Linked DNA regions of Homo sapiens: region 2 is linked to region 1. The links come from fine-mapping of genetic effects on gene expression. A gene starts in region 1. The other region holds a variant in brackets. All regions are shown on one strand. Distances are between the middles of the regions.

Evidence for each region.
Region 2: its variant is fine-mapped to the expression of ZNF76 in whole blood (TOPMed, PIP above 0.99).

The regions. Positions count from the first base shown.
Region 1 is chr6:35,256,410-35,266,190 of GRCh38, reverse strand. ZNF76 (zinc finger protein 76) reads right to left here and starts at 6,456. Exons shown (of 14, transcript NM_003427.5): 1 at 6,350-6,456. SCUBE3-AS1 (SCUBE3 antisense RNA 1) reads left to right here and starts at 6,736. Exons shown (of 4, transcript XR_001744102.2): 1 at 6,736-6,901. RefSeq lists silencers at 6,024-6,343, 6,354-6,473.
Region 2 is chr6:35,198,774-35,209,583 of GRCh38, reverse strand. LOC112267955 (a long non-coding RNA gene) reads left to right here. Exons shown (of 3, transcript XR_002956343.1): 2 at 8,701-8,783. Among named protein-coding and RNA genes, the nearest start is that of SCUBE3, 9.8 kb to the left of the region's middle. The variant GA/A (reference allele first, on the strand shown) is at 4,049.

The DNA.
Region 1 (9,781 bases):
ACAGAGCGAGATGTCTTGAAAAAAAAAAAAATTGTAGCCACCCTCAACTGCTATTTCTTTTATATATCACATCCAGTCCATCAGCAAATCCTGTTGGCTCCTTTCCAAATACATCCAGAAGCCAACCACTTCTCACCTTTCCATTGCTTCACCTTGGGTTCAAGCCACCAACTTCTCTTGTTTAGACTATTGTAGTAGCCTCCTAACCAGTTTCTCTCCTTCCATTTTTGCCCCGTTATAGCTTATTCTCAACACAGCAGCCACAATGACCTTTTCAATATGTCAGGCCATGTTATTTATCTGCCTAGAATTCTCTAATGGCTACCATCTCACTCACAACTCACACTACAAGCCAGTGGCCTGTGTGATCTGCCCCCAATTCACCCCCACCGCAACATCTGCCATTTCTTCTCTCACTAATATACTGCAGCCGTATTGGCTGGCTTCCTCATGTTTCTTGAATATATAGGGCACATTCCTGCCTCAGGGCCTTTGTGTTTGCTGTTCTTCCTGACTGGAATAAATTTCCCCTAGATGTATGCTTGACTTACCCCCTAACTTCCTTCAGGTCTTTGCTCAAATGTTACCTTTTTAGTGGGAACCTCTTCAACTACCCTATTTAAAATTTTAACACCCAGAATCCTGGCATTTTCTTCTTCTTCTTCTTCTTTTTTTTTTTTTTTTGAGACAGAGTCTCGCTCTGTCGCCCAGGCTGGAGTGCAGCAGCGTGATCTCAGCTCACTGCAACCTCTGCCTCCTGGGTTGAAGTGATTCTCGTGCCTCAGCCTCCCGAGTAGCTGGGATTACAGGTGCCTGCCACCACGCCTGGCTAATTTTTGTATTTTTAGTAGAGCTGGGGTTTCGCCATGTTGGCCAGGCTGGTCTCAAACTCCTGGCCTCATGTTATCTACCCAACCCAGCCTCCCAAAGTGCTGGGATTACAGGTGTGTGCCACTGCACCTGGCCTACTCCTGGCACTTTCTATCTCCCTTCTCTGCTTAATTTTCTCAATATATATTTTACTTATTTGTTTATTGTCTGTCTCTACCCTGTCCATTCCTCAAACAGTGAGCTCACTGCTCTATTCCCAGTACCTAGAAAAGTACCTGGCACACAGCAGATATTCACCAAATATTTGTGGGATGAATGAATCAGTGAATGAATGAATATATATACCTTTAGGATCTCCCAGTAACTTGAAACCTTTAGGCAAGAAGGGGAAGACCCTAGTAGAGCTCTGGTCTCTCTCCAGCCCTCAGTCCCTCTTTCCTCCTTACTGCCTCACCCTCTTCTCAGGTCCAGTCCAGCCCTATTCCACCAGAAACCATACCTAAGCTGAGAAGCAGTGCAACAGGTGCTTGATGCCAGGATGTTACAATTCCCAGGCCACTAGGTACAGAATTCTGCAGGGTGCTAATTTTTAAATTTAGCATCCTGATATCTCACAAACAGAAGAGGTCAGAGAAAGGTTAGGACTAAATATACTACTTAACCTAGATAACAGTACTGATTCAGAAACAGTAGCTCATTTGCTCTGAGGTGTTTTCCAAGGAACAGTGCTAAATTTGCACTTGTTCACCTAGCTGCCCCTGCCTTTAATCTTTTTATAATGGATTTCCAACATACACAAAAATGGAAAGAATGGTATAATGAACCTCTTGAACCCATTATCCAACTTCAAAAATTACCAACATTTTGCCTCCTTGGTTTCCTCTGTTCCTTAATCGTCTCTGCAACCCACACTAAATATTTCAAACTAGCTGTTTTCTTGAGAACAGATTTATATAAGACAGCCCCTGATGCTGTTACCACTGTATTTGAGCAACTGCGTCAAACAACCTATCTTACCAGAAATACAGTAGAAAAAGAAAAGCACTTACACCCATTCCCCCACCCGAGCAATGACTAAAAAAGGAAGTGTCTAAATTACCGACGTTTAAATCAAGGGACATGCCCATTATCATGTTTGGAGAACTTTGGGGAGGGGTGTTGTGTCCACAAAATGAATGTAGACATGAACTGCTTTTACTTTTGTACACCTGATGCAGAATTTCTGAGTGAGTTAATTTAATCCAACAGGTAAGTACTGACTACCTGCTAAATGTGAGGGAAGAGATGAAGACAGAAGATAAAGAAAACCAGCCAGGTGCAGTGGCTCATGCCTGTAATCCTAGCACTTTGGGAGGCTGAGGCGAGTGGATCACCTGAGGTCAGGAGTTAGAGATCAGTCTGGCCAACATGGTGAAACCCTGTCTCTACTAAAAATACAAAAATTAGCTGGGCATGGTTGCAGGCGCCTGTAACACCAGCTACTTGGGAGGCTGAGGTGTGAGAATCACTTGAACTCAGGAGGAGGAGGTTGCAGTGAGCCAAGACTGCACCACTGCACTCCAGCCTGGGTGACAGAGTAAGACTCCATCTCGAAAAGAAAAGAAAAAAGAAAACCTAGTCTCTGTTCTCACAGAGCTCACAGAGTGGGGTTGAGAAAAGTACACAAATAACTCAAATACAAGGCAGAATAAGTTCTGTGCCCTAAGTAAACAAATCTAAGGCAAGAACTCCTTTTTAAAATCCACCCACAGCAGTTGTAGAACCCAGGGTATACCCTTTCCTCAACTCTAGTTTTAGTTTCTGCTGTATTTATTGCTGCACAGCCAATAAGTACATTATAAGAGACCTGGGAATTTGGTGACCCACAGAATAGACTTTTGGATGTGGATCTTTGATGTCACATTTTGCTACTGACTCTTCAGACTTCAGTGGTTGGGGATTATCAAGTTTTCCCAGGGCTTGGAAAACAATGGGGCTAATTCAGTGCCTGCAGAAGCTGACACCCAAAGCATTCTACTCTGAGGGCATATACAGCAAGCAGCTTCATAACAGGATAGGATAGTGGGAGGGTGTCCAGGAGACACAGCTAGATTGATTCTGAAGGACTTCAAAGGGCTCTCTCCCTGCCCTCTAAAAAACCAAGATCCTTTGGTGATCTATTATCAGAAGTCATCAGAAGTTCCCAGAGAAGAGTGTAGTTCTCTGGATAAACCGAAGAGACTGATGAAGTTTGGTGGAACAGTGCAGCATATGAAGGAAGCAGAGCTGAAAGCAGCAGGGGCATACGCATGGCCCTGGAGATAGATGCACAAGAGAGTGGAGGAAGAAAGGAGCAGACCTGAGATGGAAGGGAGATTTATATTGTAATCAATTATCAAGATTGGTGAGGTGAGGATGGCTGAGGGGACAAATAAGAGGAAGGCAGGAAGAGGAGGCCCTGTGGAAGGGTGAAAGACAATCCGGGTTTGAAAAGGTGAGGGAGGAATCTGAGAGGCAGGATCTCACAGGATACTGGGCAAGGGTATGAGAGGAGAGGCCTTAGAATGGGAGGGTGTGCAAGTTATACAGGATTGCTTCATGCTGGGATGGAAGGAGCCGATTCCATTGAAGCTAGTCACATCAAGAGGTCACTAAATGAAGGACAAATTATATGAAGGTTTCAGGTCACAGAATGTGGCTGAGGATGGCAGAAGGTGGGGTGGTGGGAGTAGAACACTGAGACTAAAAAATAGGATGAAAGGCAACTGGGCTAGATGGTTTTAGAGCATACAGACTTGTGGATTCCTGGGGCTAAGGGACTTAACAAGATGAAAGGATTTGGGGTAAAGTGCCAGTGAGGTGGGAGACACTGTATGGTGAGTGAGTTCACAGGGAAAGGGCTGGAAGCGTCAAAGATTCATAGAACAAGAGATATTTGGGCAAAGGATGAAGAGAGAAGTTGACTGGGTTCAAGACACTACTCCAAAATATGGCAACTTGAGAAAATGGCAGTAGGAAGGTCACTCTCACTTTCTCTGAGGCTCTTCTCCCCTGAAGCAGATCACAAAACCTAGGAAGGATTTTTCTGACTTTCCCCTGAAGCAGGTCATAATACCCTCCTCATAAAGAGGTGCCCTCCCTATACTCAGAGGAAAGAAGCACCCTTATCTGTGAAGACACAGGGACACAGAGAAGAGTCTGAACAAACAGGCCTTGCTAAGTTTCTCCCAGTTTATTACTATTTGATATTACCCTTTTTGTATTTTTCCACAACTATCCACTCTTCATCAGATCTAGTATAAAAATATACAAGTTTAATCATTTCTTTAGGTCTTCATTTCCTTATGAAGGCTCCTGTCACATAAAACTTACATTAAATAAATGTATATAATCTTCTCTTATTAAATCTGTTGTTATAGGGGCCTAAGCCATGAACCTAAGAAGATATTTTCCCTCCCCTACAAGGTGCAGGGGCTTCAGGGGATATGAGATCAAAAGTCATGAACAGCAGGATGAGAAAGTCACCAAGTTACATGGCAAACGGTAATAGAAACCTTGGGGGTCAGGGCCAGTCTTGGTGGCTCACGCCTATAATCTCAACTACTTGAGAGGCTAAGGTGGGAGGATCTCTTGAGGCTAGGAGCTCAAGAACAGAAACCTTAGGGATCAAGGAACGAGCTGATGTTGTATTTAGGAATTACTAGAAAATAAGGAATAAGGAGCTGAGGTTGAGTAAGTCTGGGGGAAAGACAGGCAATGGAGTAGGGTTTTGTTTTGTTTTTTTAAACTGTGGGTTCAAATCTTAGCTCTGCTACTTAGCTGTGAGAGTTTCTGGTTCATTTCTCTGAAACCAACCAACCAACCAAACAAAAATATGGGAAGGGAAAATGGTGGATATAATAATAATTAACTCTTGGGGCTGTTGAGACGTAAATTTAACTTATATATCCAGAGCTTGGCACACAGTAGGTATTCAGCAAGCCAATCGTTATTGAGGCAAAATCAGGGTAAGAACCAGAGAAGTGAGGCTACAGCAGAGATGAGAAGATAGGGATTCCAAGATGTCAGTAGTAGCAACATAATGCAAGGTATGGGCCACATGTTCAGTCTGTTAAATCCCTAGCACTCAGGACAGAGTAAGATCCATAGCAGCTTCTCATTTCTAACAACAGCTTATGCTAAGGGTTCCCATGAGCCAGGCATGGTGCCCGGTGCTTTACATATGTTATGTCAGGCACTACTATTTTCTCCCTTCGCAGAGGTGGAGACTGAAGTTAAGACAGGCTAAATAATATACCAAAAGTCCCATAGCTGAAGGGCCAGAATCAGTCTGGAACCTAGGTTTGTTATGAACTCAATGCCCCCAAATGAAGCACTCTGCTATACTGCTTTGCAAACATGTTAACTGATGGGGCCTGATCAAGGGAAATGGGTATGCACTATGAAGAGTGAAGAGGGTGATCCGGGAATGAGGGAGTAAGGTTCATGATGCAAGCAGATCCTGGGATGAGGTTACAAGAGGAAATTTCCAGGGTGGGGTACAAAAATGATTGCAAAAAATTATTATCTTGACTGAGAACTGCATAATTTCACAATTTCACAGACGGAAGGAAACTCAAAGATCATCTAACCCAACCTCATCACAGTCATGATGAGAAACTGAGGTCCAGACTGAGGAGGGGACTTCTCACAGGTCCCTAAAGCACAGCAGTGACAGAGCTGGGACCACACACTGGATTGACTGGATTCTGGATTGATCCAGAATTCTCTGATGCCTCCAATTATTACTACTTCATATTAATCTCTATATCCTCCTTAGCACCAGAAAGGTGCTGGACGCTTGTAAGTCATGTGCTGATTGACACTGAAGGGCTGGGATCGCAGAGAGAGATGCCAGTGGGGGTGATTTTAGGATAAAGGCAGACGTGGAACGAGGGTCATACGGCTACAGGATAAAGATACTGAGGGTTGTGTACAAGGTGAGTGCGTGGAAAACTATTGGAGTAGGGCTTAGGAGTCGCCAGCAGAGTTTTGAGGGGAGTCACCGAGTTTGTGGGGAACACAAGGTAGAATCGGGGGGGTTACTGGGCCAGGAGGGTTACCCAGGTTTGGGGGTCACTAAGGAGGAGTGTGGGGATCTCAGGGTCATGTGAGTCACCGGATTAAAACTGAGGGAGTCACTGGTTGGTGGGTCTCTGAGAAGTGCTGGGGAAATTCCTGGGTTAGCAGCCAATGAATAATAACCAACGGTTACCTGGTGAGGTCTTGGGGTCAGTGGGTGGGGTGTGGGGTCACAAGGGTGGAGGCGGGCGCCGTCACGGGGTGAGGTTTGGGAGTCACGGGGGAGGAGCCGCAAGGCGGAAAAGAGGGGCAGGGACCCTGGGTGGGGGAGGGGGCCCGGCCGCGGTCCAGCGGCCAGGCCGCCCTGCTAGGGCCGGAGGGAGGTGGGCACGCCGGGCTCGGGACCTTCCCGGGGTCCTGCGCCCGCCCGGCCTCCCGCCCTGGGCATGGTTGGCCCACTCCTCCCGCAGCCACCAACCTGACAGCCCCCGAGGGCGACTCCGCCGACAGACCGCCATGCACCGGGCCCCGCCACCAGCGCCGGCCCCACAACCCGCCTGCGCCATAGCCCGCCCGCCCGCGCGCAGCTTGCCTCGCGCGATATCCAGGTTCCAGGGCCGCCGCACTTTCCTTTCCTCTTGGCGCGCCTCTACCGGGCCCCGGAACCCGTATAGAAAATACCGGGCACGGTCCACCCCGCCCCCCGCTTCGCCGCGGCAGCCATCCAACTTATCCTGGTTCCGGGGCTCCTGGAGCCCAGGCGGCCGGGATCTGAACCGAGCTCTTCGGAGCCCCGCCCCCACCAAGGCCGGGGTGACGCATGGCCAGCGAGGCTGAGCGCCCAGGGAAGGCGTGCTGACGTCACGACGCCCGGGTCAGGGCCTGGGCGCGGCTCGGAGCCGGGTCGTCGCTATAGCAATCGGGAACCGCTACCTGTCCATTCCAAGGATTCGGTCCAGCAGAAGCGTGAGGAGGTGGCGGAGGCCCCGAGGGCTTTGCGTCATCACTTCTGCGGCCTGCGGGCGAGAAGGTGCGCTTCGGGAGTAGCGCGGGAGGACAGGAGGCGCAGGTTGTGAGGGACGCAGGCCCTGGGGCTTCGGTCTCTGTCCTCCGAGCTCAGAGCCTCCAGGCTTCTTCCCGGCCGCGCGCTCAGCACTCACTGTCTTACGGTCCCGAAGCGCTTTAAGGTGCGCAGTCCGCAGGCCTTGCCTACTGATCTTCCAGCCACCCCTTGAAGGAAGCAGTTGCAGGTATTAAGAGCTCCTTATTGAAAAGGACGATGTAGAGGGGCGGTGAGGGACTCGCCTCCGCAGGGAGGGCGCCCTGGCGGTCTTCTCAGGTTCTCTCTCATTCCCGCGTCAGCTCCACCGTCAGGCTCGAAACCGACTACTCCCTTTTGTAGGCTTGCTTTGGGTTGAACATAAAAACCAAGCCCCTTTACTATTTCCCTGCTGGGAGGGGCTGCGATTGGGAAATTTTCAGAAACCTGAGGGAAAATTAAAAGGGAGCGAGCTTTCGGTAAAAAATCAAATTAAAAAGGAGGGGCGTTAGAGAAGGAACTGGTAAAGATTGCCTTTTAGGAGAGGAACTGGGTGGCTGGAAGAATGAGGTGAGAAACTTTCCCCTCTCTATCCTTTCAGACTTTAACTGGTTTCTTTTGTATCTTCCCCGCCCCGAAAACAATTTAACTTAATAAGAATAATTTTTAAAGGACGTAAACTAGACACAGTTACAAAGTACGGGGTTTGGGGCTTGTGGTAGCTAAAGGTGTCTTTGGGGATGCGGGCATCCTTTTCCTCTCCTGCCTGAAGAGCTTAACTAGAAAGCCCCCCTTTCGGTCTTAGACATCCCCTCTTCCTGACTTGTTCTGGCTGGGACCAGAGTTCAGTTTAGGTAGGCCAGTGAGTGACATTTGATGGTTAGAATTCCTACGGTTAGAATTAATCCCTTCTGTATCTCCTAGTATGGAAATAAACTGCCTGGCCACTATGCTGCCCTCTTTCCATTCCTTTTTGGTGGAAGTTTGACAAGTTATTTCCCATAGAAAATAACTTATAGGCCGGGCGCCGTGGCTTAAACGCCTGTAATCCCAGCACTTTGGGAGGCTGAGGCGGGCGGATCACGAGGTCAGGAGTTCGAGACCAGCCTGGTCAACATAGTGAAACCCCCCCTCTCTACTAAAAATACAAAAAAATTAGCTGGGCGTGGTGGCGGGCGCCTGTAATCCCAGCTACTCCGGAGGTTGAGGCAGGAGAATTGCTTGAACCCGGGAGGCGGAGGTTGCAGTGAGCCAAGATCGCACCATTGCAGTCCAGCGCGGGCAACAGTGTGACTCCGTCTCAAAAAAAGAAAAAAAAAAAGAAAAAGAAAAAGTACCTTATAGATACAGAGAGAAGATTAAGTAGCTCCTCTTATAATATGAATTGAGGGTTAGAAATACCGCAGGGAATAGAACTCAGGCTGTACCTGAGTTTGTCCCTCTCCAACCACCCTTTTTCCATAGCTCTCTCTGTATATATATATCTGTCTTTTCTCACATTCCTTACGGATCGTAATCTGATGGCCAGTCACCTCTGCAATTATACATTTAACAAGAGCTCTGGGAAACAGTGTCTGAATCTGAAGTAATGATCCTAATGGAAGGTAATTTCAGGTTCTCAGGAGAATTGGTGAGGATATTTTGGAGGGCAGTATTGAAGACCATTGCTAGCAGTTTCTCTCCTATCCCTTCCACTCAACATATAGGCTGGTGATCTTCAGACATTTTTTAGAATGAACCCATAAAAGAATTTTGAAGAGCTATGTACCTCTTGTTCATTTTTAAGTTGATACCTAAATTTTCCTTCATTAATTTAAATACTTATAGAGGATACAATTTCAAATTTTGACATCTTAAACTAAGACTTACATCATTCTTTTTTTCTGAGACGGAGTCTCGCTCTGTCAACCAGGCTGGAGTGCTGCAGTGGCGAAATCTCAGCTCACTGCAACTTCCCCTTCCAGGTTCAAGCAATTCTCCTGCCTCAGCCTCCCGAGTAGCTGGGACTACAGGTATGCGCCACCATGCCTGGCTAATTTTTAGTAGAAACGGGGTTTCATGGTGTTAGCCAGGATGGTCTCGATCTCCTGACCTCGTGATCCGCCCGCCTTGGCCTCCCAAAGTGCTGAGATTACAGGCATGAGCCACCACACTTGGTCTACATCATTCTTAATGTATCTGGCAGGGCAGGCACAGTGGCTCATGCTTGTAATCCCAGCACTTTGGGAGGCTGAGACAGGCGGATCCCGAGGCCAGGAGTTCGAGACCAGCCTGGCCAAGATGGTGAAACCCTGTCTCTACTAAAAATACAAAAATTAGCCGGGCATGGTGGTGCGTACCTGTAGTCCTAGCTACTCGGGAGGCTGAGGCAGGAGAATCACTTGAACTCGGGAGGCGGAGGTTGCAGTGAGCTGAGATCGTGCCACTGCACTCTAGCCTGGGCTACAGAGTGAGACTGTCTCACATTAAAAAAAAGTATCCGGTGGATTCCAAGTACCCTAAAAATCTAATGCCTACCATCATCCACTTAAAAATATATGAACAAGCTCTTCAACAGAAATTTTATATGGTTCTCTTTCTCCTTATACTTTGAATTCCATTCACTTCCTGTAATCATTAGTATATAACTTACTAAACTTTTTTTTTTTACTAAATATTACTAAATACTAAATTTTCCTAAATATTTTTAACATTTTTATGACTTGTGAAACCTAAAAAGTACAATTTTTATTGAAAATGCATCTGTTAATGAGAAATATGGTGTTTCTCCCCAATTAGTTCAGGTATTCATGGATTAATATTACCTAATGGTAGAAGGAGATAAGGTGCAACATCAATCCTTTACCTGTTTTTTATTTTTATAGACATGAG
Region 2 (10,810 bases), 57 kb after region 1:
GTCCTTGCTTTGCACTCCTTCAGGGTAGCTCAGGAGTCATTTTGCCATATAGGCAGAGGCTTGGAAGTAACCCTCTCTCAAAGTCTGTTTCCCAGCGCTGGGATTTTAGGAGTACCTTGTTCCCAGGCCCTTAGTGTTGGCTTTACAGAGAGGTCCACAGGCAGCCCTGCCAAGACATGGGGCAGAGGGAACCCAATCCAAGCTGCCCACACCTGTTCCAGCCTCTCCTCCAGACACTTAGGCCACCTCCAGTTTAGCTCCCTTGGCCCTTCACCCCAGTTTCCTCCCACCCCTCCTCTCTGCCCACATCCACTCCTGAGTTACCTTGCCACCTGCTTCCTCTCCACCTGTGCCCCAGCTGCTTTCACTAAGGAAACAAAAATCTCTACCCTGCCAACTGGCATCATCACCGATGTGTGGTTCCAGACCCCTGCACATCACAAGGCAAATCTCCAGCCACCCCAGGCCTGCACCCTGTCCACTTCCACACAGCTGCCCTCCCAAACTTGTTTCCCTTCTGCCAACCCCAGCCCCCATACTTCTCCAATCAGCATCCTCAATTCCTGTTTCTCCAAAAAGCCAGGAGCCATCTAACGTGAGCCTCCTATCGCCTGCTCCCTTCTCTCTCCACTGCTGGGAGAGGGGTCCATCCTTTTGGCCAAACCTAATACCATGTACATGTACCTGGATCTCATCCCCTCTTGCCACTTCAGGGAGCTGGCTCTGTCAGTTATCCCCTCTTTTGCCTGAATGTCTCACCTCAGCTCCCCCTGTAAACACAATAAGATCTGCAGCATCCTATAGTAGCAACAGGGAAGTAACCCAGACCCTGCTGCCTCTTGTCCTTCCAGGCTCCCAACTTCTCTGCCCTAGGTCTCCATGACACTGCTTCCCTTTCATCCCTGGCCCTAATGCATTCTGTCCCAGACTCCCTCTGCCACCCCTCCCCCAAAGTCTCCAGCGACTTCCACGTCTTCATATCCAGGGCTGTTTGCCGGTCCTTATCTAGCCTGACATCTCTGCCTCATCCAAAACCTCTGAACATTCTTCTTCCGCTTCTTGGAGCACTTTCTTCTCCTGCATCTCCTGCTGGCTGCTTTCTCTCTGCTGGCCTCTTACATGCTGGAGAGTTTGGGCTTCTAGCTTGGCTTTTTTCACTTCTCACTCTACATGACCTCCCTAGGGGACTCTCTGAGGGACAGCAAGGGTGAAGGAAAGAACATTGGCTTTGTGGTCAAATAGTCCCAAGTTTAAATCCCAGCCACGTCAATGGGTGAGCTTGGGCAAGTTTCTTCACCTCTTTGAGCTTTATCATCCTCATCTGGAAAATAGGGAGGATAAACTTCTGTTACTGATGTTTGGAGTGTTACTGATGATGACTTGTGTGGAAGGTCCCTCACGAAATAGGCGGACAGCACGTAGTGGGGCATTATGGCTCCAGGCACCACCAATATGCCAGTGACCACCAAATCTATATCCCTAACCCCACTTTTCTCCTAGCTCTAATTCCGCATATTCAATTTGCAGATCTATAGCTCTAGCTCCCTTCTCTGCTTCCTATCTAGTCCTATATTTCCACCTACTTATAGATACTTCCGATGATATTTTTCAAGACCTGAAGCTGAACCTACCCCCAGCTGAACTCATTCCTCACAACATCCTCCCCTGACCTGTCCTCTTCCCGTGATCTCCATCTTGAGGTTAATAGCTCAAAACCTACTCAGTGGCCCCATTTGGACTCCTCAGAGTCCTAAGGACAGTCCTCCTCCTGATCCCCCTTGCTGCTGCCACAGTTCAGGTACTTCTTGTGTCTCCTGTGGGCCACTGCCTGACAGAGCTAAGTTCTGGCTGCTTGGCACAGTGTACGTGGCCTTCTGTGCCAGTCCTGAGCCTTTATTTCCAATGACATTTCATGCTTGTCTTCTAACTTCACCATCACTACACCCTAGCTACACCATGCCTGGCACGCACCATGTTCTTGTCAGCTGGAGAACTACTGCCCTTTAAAATCTTGTAGTGGCTCATGCCTTTAATCCCAGTATTTTGGGAGGTTGAGGCAGGAGGATGACTTGAGGCCAGAAGTTCAAGACCAGCCCAGGCAACATAATGAAACCCTGTCTCTACAAAAAAATTCAAAAATTAGCTGAAGTGGTGATGTACACCTGTAGTCCTAGCTACTCAGAGGTTGAGGTAGGAGGACTGCTTGAGCCCAGGAGTTGGAGGTTCAGTGAGCTGTGATCTCACCACTGCACTCTAGCCTGGGCTACATAATGAGACCCTGTTAAAAACAAAAATAAAAAGATCCAGCTTCCATGGTACCTTGGCAGGGAAGTCTTTTTACTGCCCCAGCAGACTTGGAGCTCAGTGGTCCTTGAAACCTATCCCAGTGATGGCCCTGGCTATCGCTAATGGTCTGTTTACCTTCCACTAGTTCTGTCAAACCTTTGAGGGCAAGACCCATTTGGGTCACCTCTGTATCCCCAGCTCTAAGCATATGCCTGGAAGATAGTTGTGTTCAGTGAATATTTACTGAATAGCTGAAAGAATAAAGGAAGGGTGAGCTCACGCAAACCCCAGAGGAGAAGTGAAGCATTCCCTGACCTCGTCTCCCTGCCTCCCACCCGTCTGAGGATGCTTCAGGTTTCCTGGAGGACCTAGGGCAGCAGAGGGTGTTCAATGGAAGGGCAGTGTGGAAAACCCCACTGAGGAAAGACCATGTACACACAGGGGGCCTAGGAGAGGACTCCTGCTAGAGACTTTCAGGGTCTGGAAGACACAGATGCGTATCTGGAACCTTCCAAGCCAGAGCTCAGGATATCCCCAAAGGTCTGAAGAACTGGGTAATGGCAGCCTAGATAAAGCAGCCAGAGGTAGGAGACTGGTCAAGAAGCAGCCTGAGTGGTCAGAGGTCTGGGGCCAGAACAGATGAAAGGGGTCTATAGGCAGCTCTCATATGAACTCTGGGAGGCAAGTCCAGGAAGGAGAACCCTAGGTGAGGCCACTTGAAAGTCCCTGGGGGATTCTCTGCCACCTCATCAAAGATCTTTCTGACTGATGCTTAACATTCCATTATTGGAGAATCACTCCTTTGAGCTAAACCTTATGTTCTTTGGCCCTAAATACAAATATTCCTGTGAGAGAGGGTGACGGCCTTTGCCAGTTAAAACTTTAGTTATCAGTTGACACCCTAAAAAATGTGTTGTGAGTGTCAGAGGAGGGGGCTGTAGGAACACTCATAAGGAACTTCCTAATTTTGCTAAGAGGTGGCTTGCTTTCCCTCCCCCTACCCTATTCTTTATGGCTATCCTCTCCTAGATCTCCACTGGGTTCCCTCCTCAGAGGAAAAGATGGAGAGGTGGAGAAGGACCACTTCATCTACCAATACCACTCCTATGGATATCCTGGATTAAGGAAAGGATAGGTGGAAGTATTGGGGCAAAGTTCAATTTATCCATGAACCAACTTCAAGTAGACCATAAAGCAAATTGTTGTAAAACAAAGCTCAGTTGCCCAATAGCTTCTATTACATTTCCATAGAAGGGCTCCCATTGGGCTGAAAATCATTCTAGGAGAAGCTGAAAACCTGCAATAAGGAAGGATCGTCGGAATGTTTGCCAGCTATGTGCTTCTGCTGAGTGTTGATATCCTTACAGAATTTTGCCTCCCTTTTGCAGCAAGAGGCTCTCTTTTCGTCATGCCACGTCTCCACTTCTGAGCTGACTTGGCAAAGCTGAGGGACATCACAGTCAGGCTGACATTCCTTGGTGCCCTGCTCTGGTCCTGCAAAATCTAGTCTGTAGGAAGTTGCAGTATGTTGAAGAAGAACGGGCTTCCCTGGGCCCCTGACCCAGACTCAGTGATGTTCCACCTCTTGATCAGCTTAAGGGCTACTGAGGAGGGAGAGGAGCTCATTCTTTTTTTTTTTTTTTTGAGACGGAATTTCGCTCTTGTTGTCCAGGCTGGGGTGCAATGCTGCGATCTCAGCTCACCGCAACCTCTGCCTCCCAGGTTCAAGTGATTCTCCTGCCTCAGCCTCCCAAGTAGCTGG[GA/A]TTACAGGCATGCGCCACCACACCCGGCTAATTTTGTATTTTTAGTAGAGACAGGGTTTCTCCATGTTGGTCAGGCTGGTCTTGAACTCCTGACCTCAAGTGATCCACCTGCCTCGGCCTCCCAAAGTGCTGGGATTACAGGTGTAAGCCACCGCACCCAGCCCGGAAGGAGCTCTTCTGTCTTTACCCTCTGTCCCCAGTCCCCGGTCCAATGCTGCTGGGATTGATTGAGAAATTTGGTGGCTTCTCTTTGGTAGATCCAAGCTGTAATGCCACCCTTTACCAGTAGGTGCCGCCATCTAACATACCATCCTTCAGCCCTTGGTGAAGTCCTGAAGCCAGACCTCTGGGAGTCTACTCAGGGAACCCACTGCCTCAAACAAATTTGCAAATAAAATTATTGTATTTGAAATAGGCCCACATTGGTGAAGTTAAGATGTGGAACTAATTGTATGTGTATTTCTATATAACCACAGACTCAATGTTTGATGTTTGACATTTATTGTGCACTTACTATGTACCAGGGACTTAAAGGATGTGGGGATTCAAAGATGACATGGTTTCTCCTTTTAAGTTTATGATTTGGCAAGAGAAATTCACATCTAAATAATTGGAATATAAGGCAGAATGTGGTAAATGTCCAAACATGGAGGTGCCAACATAAAATTCTAATGAGGGCATAAAGAGCACAGATTAATTCCAGCTGGAAGCAGGAGGACAACTCAGTGGAGGAGGAAAGGGTTTAAAGCTGACCTCAAAGAATATATAGAATTCTCATACATGGAGTTGGGTGAAGAGAGTGAGGGCTTTCCAGGTGGCAGGAACAACATGAGCAAAGACTTGGAGAGGAGAATGTCTTCAGGGAATTAATAATTGGTTCAATCAGAGACAAGTATTTCAGAGAGTGTGGAGGAAGATCTGAAAGGTGGGATGGGGCTAGACAATGAAGAGCCTGTTTCCATCAGATGCTAAGCGACTGACAGTGTTGCATAGGCTCCGGGAACCCGGCAACTTTACAGCAAAGTAGCAGCATGGCGGGCTCACTTCATGAATTAGCTTTATGTGTGCTCCAGGATTTCTTCAATGTGTTGATTTTTAGTGAATTTATTTCATCATGAATGCAGGAAGAGAACAGAAAGAAAAACGGGGAAAAGAGGACATAAAAAGAAGTGGGCTGGGCATGGTGGCTCACACCTGTAATCCCAGCACTCTGGGAGCCTGAGGCAGGCGGATGACGAGGTCAGGAGATCAAGACCATCCTGACTAACACAGTGAAACCCCATCTCTACTAAAAATACAAAAAATTAGCTGGGTGTGGTGGCGGATGCCTGGAGTCCCAGCTACTCGGGAGGCTGAGGCAGGAGAATGGTGTGAACCCCAGGAGGCGGAGCTTGCAGTGAGCCGAGATTTGGCCACTGTACTCCAGCCTGGGTGACAGAGCAAGACTCCGTTTCAAACAAACAAACAAACAAAAAAGAAGTGACAGGGAGGGAAATAATGGACAGAAGGAAAAGAGAGATGGAGAAGGAAGAGAGAGAAAGAGAAGGAGGCAGCCCTGGAGGAGACAAGGCAAACCCTGAACTGTTCAGGGGCCAAGCTTAAGGAGCTACTTGGGCTTTTCCAGGCAAACGACCTCTGGCTTCTTGCCCTGGCCAACCACAGAGGACAATGTGAGGCGAGTTTGTTTGGTGATGTGTTTTCTGCTGGCCCTGTTTGTTTGTTTTTCATTTTTCTGGTATTGGACAGATCTGGGGTGAAGGAAGAGGGAGACAGGGTTGTGGCTGGCATTGATAGTGGTCCTTGGGCTGGGCTCTGGGCTGCCCAGAGCCCCCCTTTAGTGGGGGCTTATGGGCATTGGAGCTGAACTTTTGATGTCCCTGGAAGGGGGCCTTTTTGTAGGTGCCCAGAGCCAGGTGGCCTTCCCAAGCCTGGAGATGGTTTGCCCTAAGCTCTTTGTCTCTGTCTTTCCCCACCCTGGCAAGAAAGAATTAGTCCTTGAGGCCTGGGCTCCTTGCCTGTGTAGCCAGGATGTCGTGCTGGGCTGGGGAGCCCATGGGGGTAGCAAGAGCAGCTGCTTCCAGATTGGTGCTGGGGAACGCAGGGGCAGTCCACGAGAGCCAGCCTTCTCCCCAGCCCCGATGATGAGTCTGGCTTTCTCTCCCGTCCCACAGCCCTTGGAAGCCAACCTAACAAGTTCTATTAAAGTTAATGAAACACAATGATTCCTCTGTTTGCTTGGTTACAACTCATTACGAGTTGCTCTTGCTTGCTCGGCTTTTGCAGAGGAGATTCATTTGAGTAGCCAGTGCTTGGCCTTTGTCCCCCTAATTTTTACTGGCCCATTAACAAGATCAGACACTTTGGCTGACCAGGAATATCTAGTACCCAAGTCCCAACAAAACCCATTGGGTGGAGTTTCAGATGACCTTTTGAGTCTAAATTAGCCTAAAAACATGCTGCCGCCCTTCCTCCCTCTGTTGCTTCCCTATATCCAAACTCAGTTTTATATGTAGGTACAATAGGAGTATGCAGAGATTTCAGAAGTTAGGAGATGCTTTTCCAGCCTCTTTAGAATGTATCTCAACCCACTGATTTAGAGAAGTTCCCTAGTAAGAGCTCCAGCTCGATTTAAGGGCTTTCCTCCCCCATTTAAATGGAAATAAACTGAACATTGTTAGTCACTTATACTTTGGTGTGAATTAGTTCATATTGTCACTTTAAGGGGATTTGGGAGTCTCCTAAATTGTATACAAACTTTTGTCCACATTATCCATTCTTCCAGAGAGAGGTTTTCTATAGCTTTCTTCAAAATTTCCATAACCGTCCCCCCACCCCCTACCCCAACACGTACACACACACACACACAAACTCTCTCTCTCTCAAAAGGTTAACAACCTCTGTGTTAGTAGAAGAGTGGGCCGTAACTGGGGCACAGAAGACAAACTCTCCTTCCTTCACCATCTGCTTGGCCAGTCCTGCCTCTAAGGAGGGACCTTCCCCTCCTCCTTGAGTTCCTTATCCACAGACCTCCCATTGTCACCACAGCTCAATCATGTGCTTCCCAAATCTTAAAACCAACCTCAAGTTGGTGGGGAGGAGTCAAAAGGAGAGCCCTTGAACTCTATGTTGATTTACATGCCGAGGCTGTAAATGATAGGTTTACATGCTGGTGTAAATACTCATAAACTCGCAGTAAGTGCAGGGCATCACATGCTTTCAGTGTCCAGATCCTCTGCAGCCCGTACAGGCCTGGCATTCTCAGGGTCAGGGAGGAGAGCGCCGAGTTGGCAGCAGCTAGCATGACAGGGGCTGACTATGACTATGGAGGAAAAGGGCGTGCTTGGAGTTGGTCTCTAAACCCTCATCCTCTCCCATACAGCAGGTGGCTTCTGCACAGTGATACCTTGGCATGACTCCCCCTGCTGCTCAGCCAGCCTGACTGTTCTTTTGGGTTAAAGCATTGTCTCCAGAAGGTCCCTGTTAAAATGCAAAGGGGCTTCTTGCAGGGTGACTTGGGCTGGTTGGCTGACTGGCTGTCACTCAACAGAAAACAGAGACCCCAGATCAGGGAGGTTAAGGTTTGGGAGAAAGGTTCAGGTGGGTCAATACTATAGCTATATGAAGTTGATTTAAATGGCTTTCCAGGTGTTCTCCCTAATTCCACTCTTGGGGGCTGAGAATCTATCCTTCATATGGCAGCCAGAGTCGTTTTAAAGCTGGGCCATACAACCTCAACGTGATTGACGTTTGTTGGGGGGCCATCCTATGCATTGTAGCACATTTAGCAGCATCCCTGGCCTCTACCCACTAGGTGCCAGCAGCAGCACTCCCTCCCCACGTTGCGACAGCCAAAAATGTCTACAGACATTGACACATGTCCCCTGGGGGAGGGGAGTGAAATCATACCCCCTATCTTCACTTCCCCCTGCCCCACTGAGAATCTCCATCATAAAGTGTAAGTCAGCCCATGTTACTCCCTGGTCAAAAATCCTACCATGTCTTCTCATTGTTCTGAGCATGAAATCCGCCGTTTGGCCCAGCCTTCAAGGCCTTGTGTAGTCCAGCCTTGCCTCCCTCTCCTGCCCCACCTTGTACCCCTCTGCTGTCATCTACCATCACCCTTTAGCCACATATAACCCTTTTTGACATACCTCGATAAACCAAGCTCTTTCTTGGACAGGGTGGAAGATGGAGAGATATGGGCAGATTTAGAGTAAGTTTCAGAGGCCCTAATTTCTTTGGATTTTACTGGGAGGCCTTTTCTTTTCGCTTTTTTGAGATGGAGTTTAACTCTTGTCGCCCAGGCTGGAGTACAATGGCGTGATCTCGGCTCACTGCAACCTCTGCCTCCTGGTTTCAAGCAATTCTCCTGATTCAGCCTCCTGAGTAGCTGGGATTACAAGCGCTTGCCACCATGCCCGGCTAATTTTTGTATTTTTTAGTAGAGACAGGGTTTCACCATGTTGGCCGGGCTGGTCTTGAACTCCTGATCTCAGGTAATCCACCCGCCTCAGCCTCCCAAAGTGCTGGGATTACAGGCATGAGCCACCGTGCCCGGCCTAGGGAGGTCTTTTCATATTAGCTTATGACAACTTGTAAATATTTAACTTACTGAATTATTTACTTTTGTTTTTCCCTTCTCCCCAACTAGAACGTAAGCTCCATCAGAGCAGGGACCATGTCTGGCTTGTTCACTATCGTGTCCTCATCATCTCCTGTACTGCCTGCCACATGGTAGGTCCTCGGTGATTACCTGTGGAATGAATGAATAAGGGTGGCAGGAGTTCAGAGAGGGAGAGGGACTCTTCTGGAAGGTTAAGGGAAGGTTTCCTGGGCATGCTGAGGCTTGAAGCTTGGGTAGGAGGTGGGGAGGGTAATCTGGGACAGAATTTAGGGGATGGCAGAAGCAGGGGCCTAAAGAATTTCACAGTGGCCAAAATGTGCTGCAATTAACCCAAGTGACATCCAGGCAGCAGGAACTTGTCATGGGGCAGAAGAACAAGTCTGATGTGAATATGATTCTCAGTCTGAGTGGATCCAAGGGGGTGAAGTAGTTGAGTCCCCTAAGTTGTTGAGGAAGTAGGGAGGGAAATCAGTTAGGCTAGAGCCTAGCAAAACCAGGGCCAAACCAGGGAGGGTTTGATTGCTGAGACTGGAGTATGGAATTGGCTGAGCCACTGAAAGGTGATGATTATTCCTCCCCTGGTATCTGATGTTGGTGATCTTGACTTCTCTGATCCCCTCGGATCCCCAGAACCAGCTCTGTGATCCTAAGTGAAGTCAAGGGACTGACCGGACACATGAACCTAGATCTCTGCAAAGAGCCCTGGGACCCAAATGGGAGAGGTCCAGGGCCTGGTTCCATCATCCCTCCCTCTCTTGATGTGTGGCCTTGCTCAAGGCGTTGGACTGCAGTGGACCTCCATGTCCTTCTTTTGGAAAACAGAGTTAACAATACCTGCCCCATTCAGAGGAGAAATGAGGTCATGTTTGTGCAGCACAGTGAGCTCACTGGAGACAATGAGTGTATTCTTCTTAACAGTAACAATAATAATCATTACTGAAAATCTAACCAGTAAATATATCTCCTCAAAGCTGGAGTTGGCCCCTCAGTAGGATAGCAATTAAAGTTTTTTTAAAAATCTCTAGATGGGGAAATTTTCTGGCTGCATTTTGATCTCTGGGGTTTGCAGAGTTGATATCATTGTGGGAGGGAGAGAGGCCTGCAGCAATCATTCATCTCAATTCCATTCAATTGTACTTTTTGTATCTCCCTTGTCCTTGAGTTCTATCCACTGGGCTTTGCAATTTCTCATCCTCTATTAGTCCTGAGGGAAAGAAGTCCCTAAATTCCGCATCTCCACACTCACCCGCTGTCCCATTCACTGACATAAACAGTGACCTGGCTACTGGAGATCCTGGGCATTCGAGCATTGGCCACAAACTATCCTGCAAAGAAAGTGGTCTGTCTTGGGTACATGATTCTCTTTCCTGCTCATCCCACTTAGTGGGCCAGTGATTCCCAAGCCGAGCTGTGCATTCAAAGCCCCCAGGAGTGGGTCCATGGATTATCAGGTGATTCTAATTTAGCCAGCCTAGCACCTGTCTGAATTTGAGAATTGCAAGGTTTTCAACCATTAGTTGTTAAATGTGTGTACAAGGAGCAGAGTGATGCTAATACAAAGGCATTGTTGCAGTTTGGGTCAAGCTGGCAAAAGACCGTCTCTCCTGCTACAATACACAAAATGACAGAAAAACTCTTGGAACAAATAAAATAGTAAATCCAATATCGTGTGATAAAACAGAGAACCATCAGCAGATCAGAAATGTTGGATCTGTGAGAGAGAAAGATAAATGGCATCAAAGCTATAAAGAGGCCGGGCGCGGTGGCTCACGCCTTTAATCCCAGCACTTTGGGAGGCCGAGGCAGGCAGATCACTTGAGGTCAGGAGTTCAAGACCAGCCTGGCCAACATGGCAAAACCTCGTCTCTACTAAAAATACAAAAAAAATTAGCCAGGTATGGTGGCGTGCGCCTATAATCCCAGCTACTCAGGAGGCTGAGGCAGGAGAATCGCTTGAATGCGGGTGGAGGTTGCAGTGAGCCAAGAACATGCCACTGCACTCCAGCCTGGGCGACAGAGCAAGATTCTGTCTCAGGAGAAAAAAAAAAAAAGCTATAAAGAAATAAAACTGAAGGAAACCACAGCTAAAACATGCAGGAGAAGACTGCTATGGAGAAAAGAGTGGTTTGGGGGACTC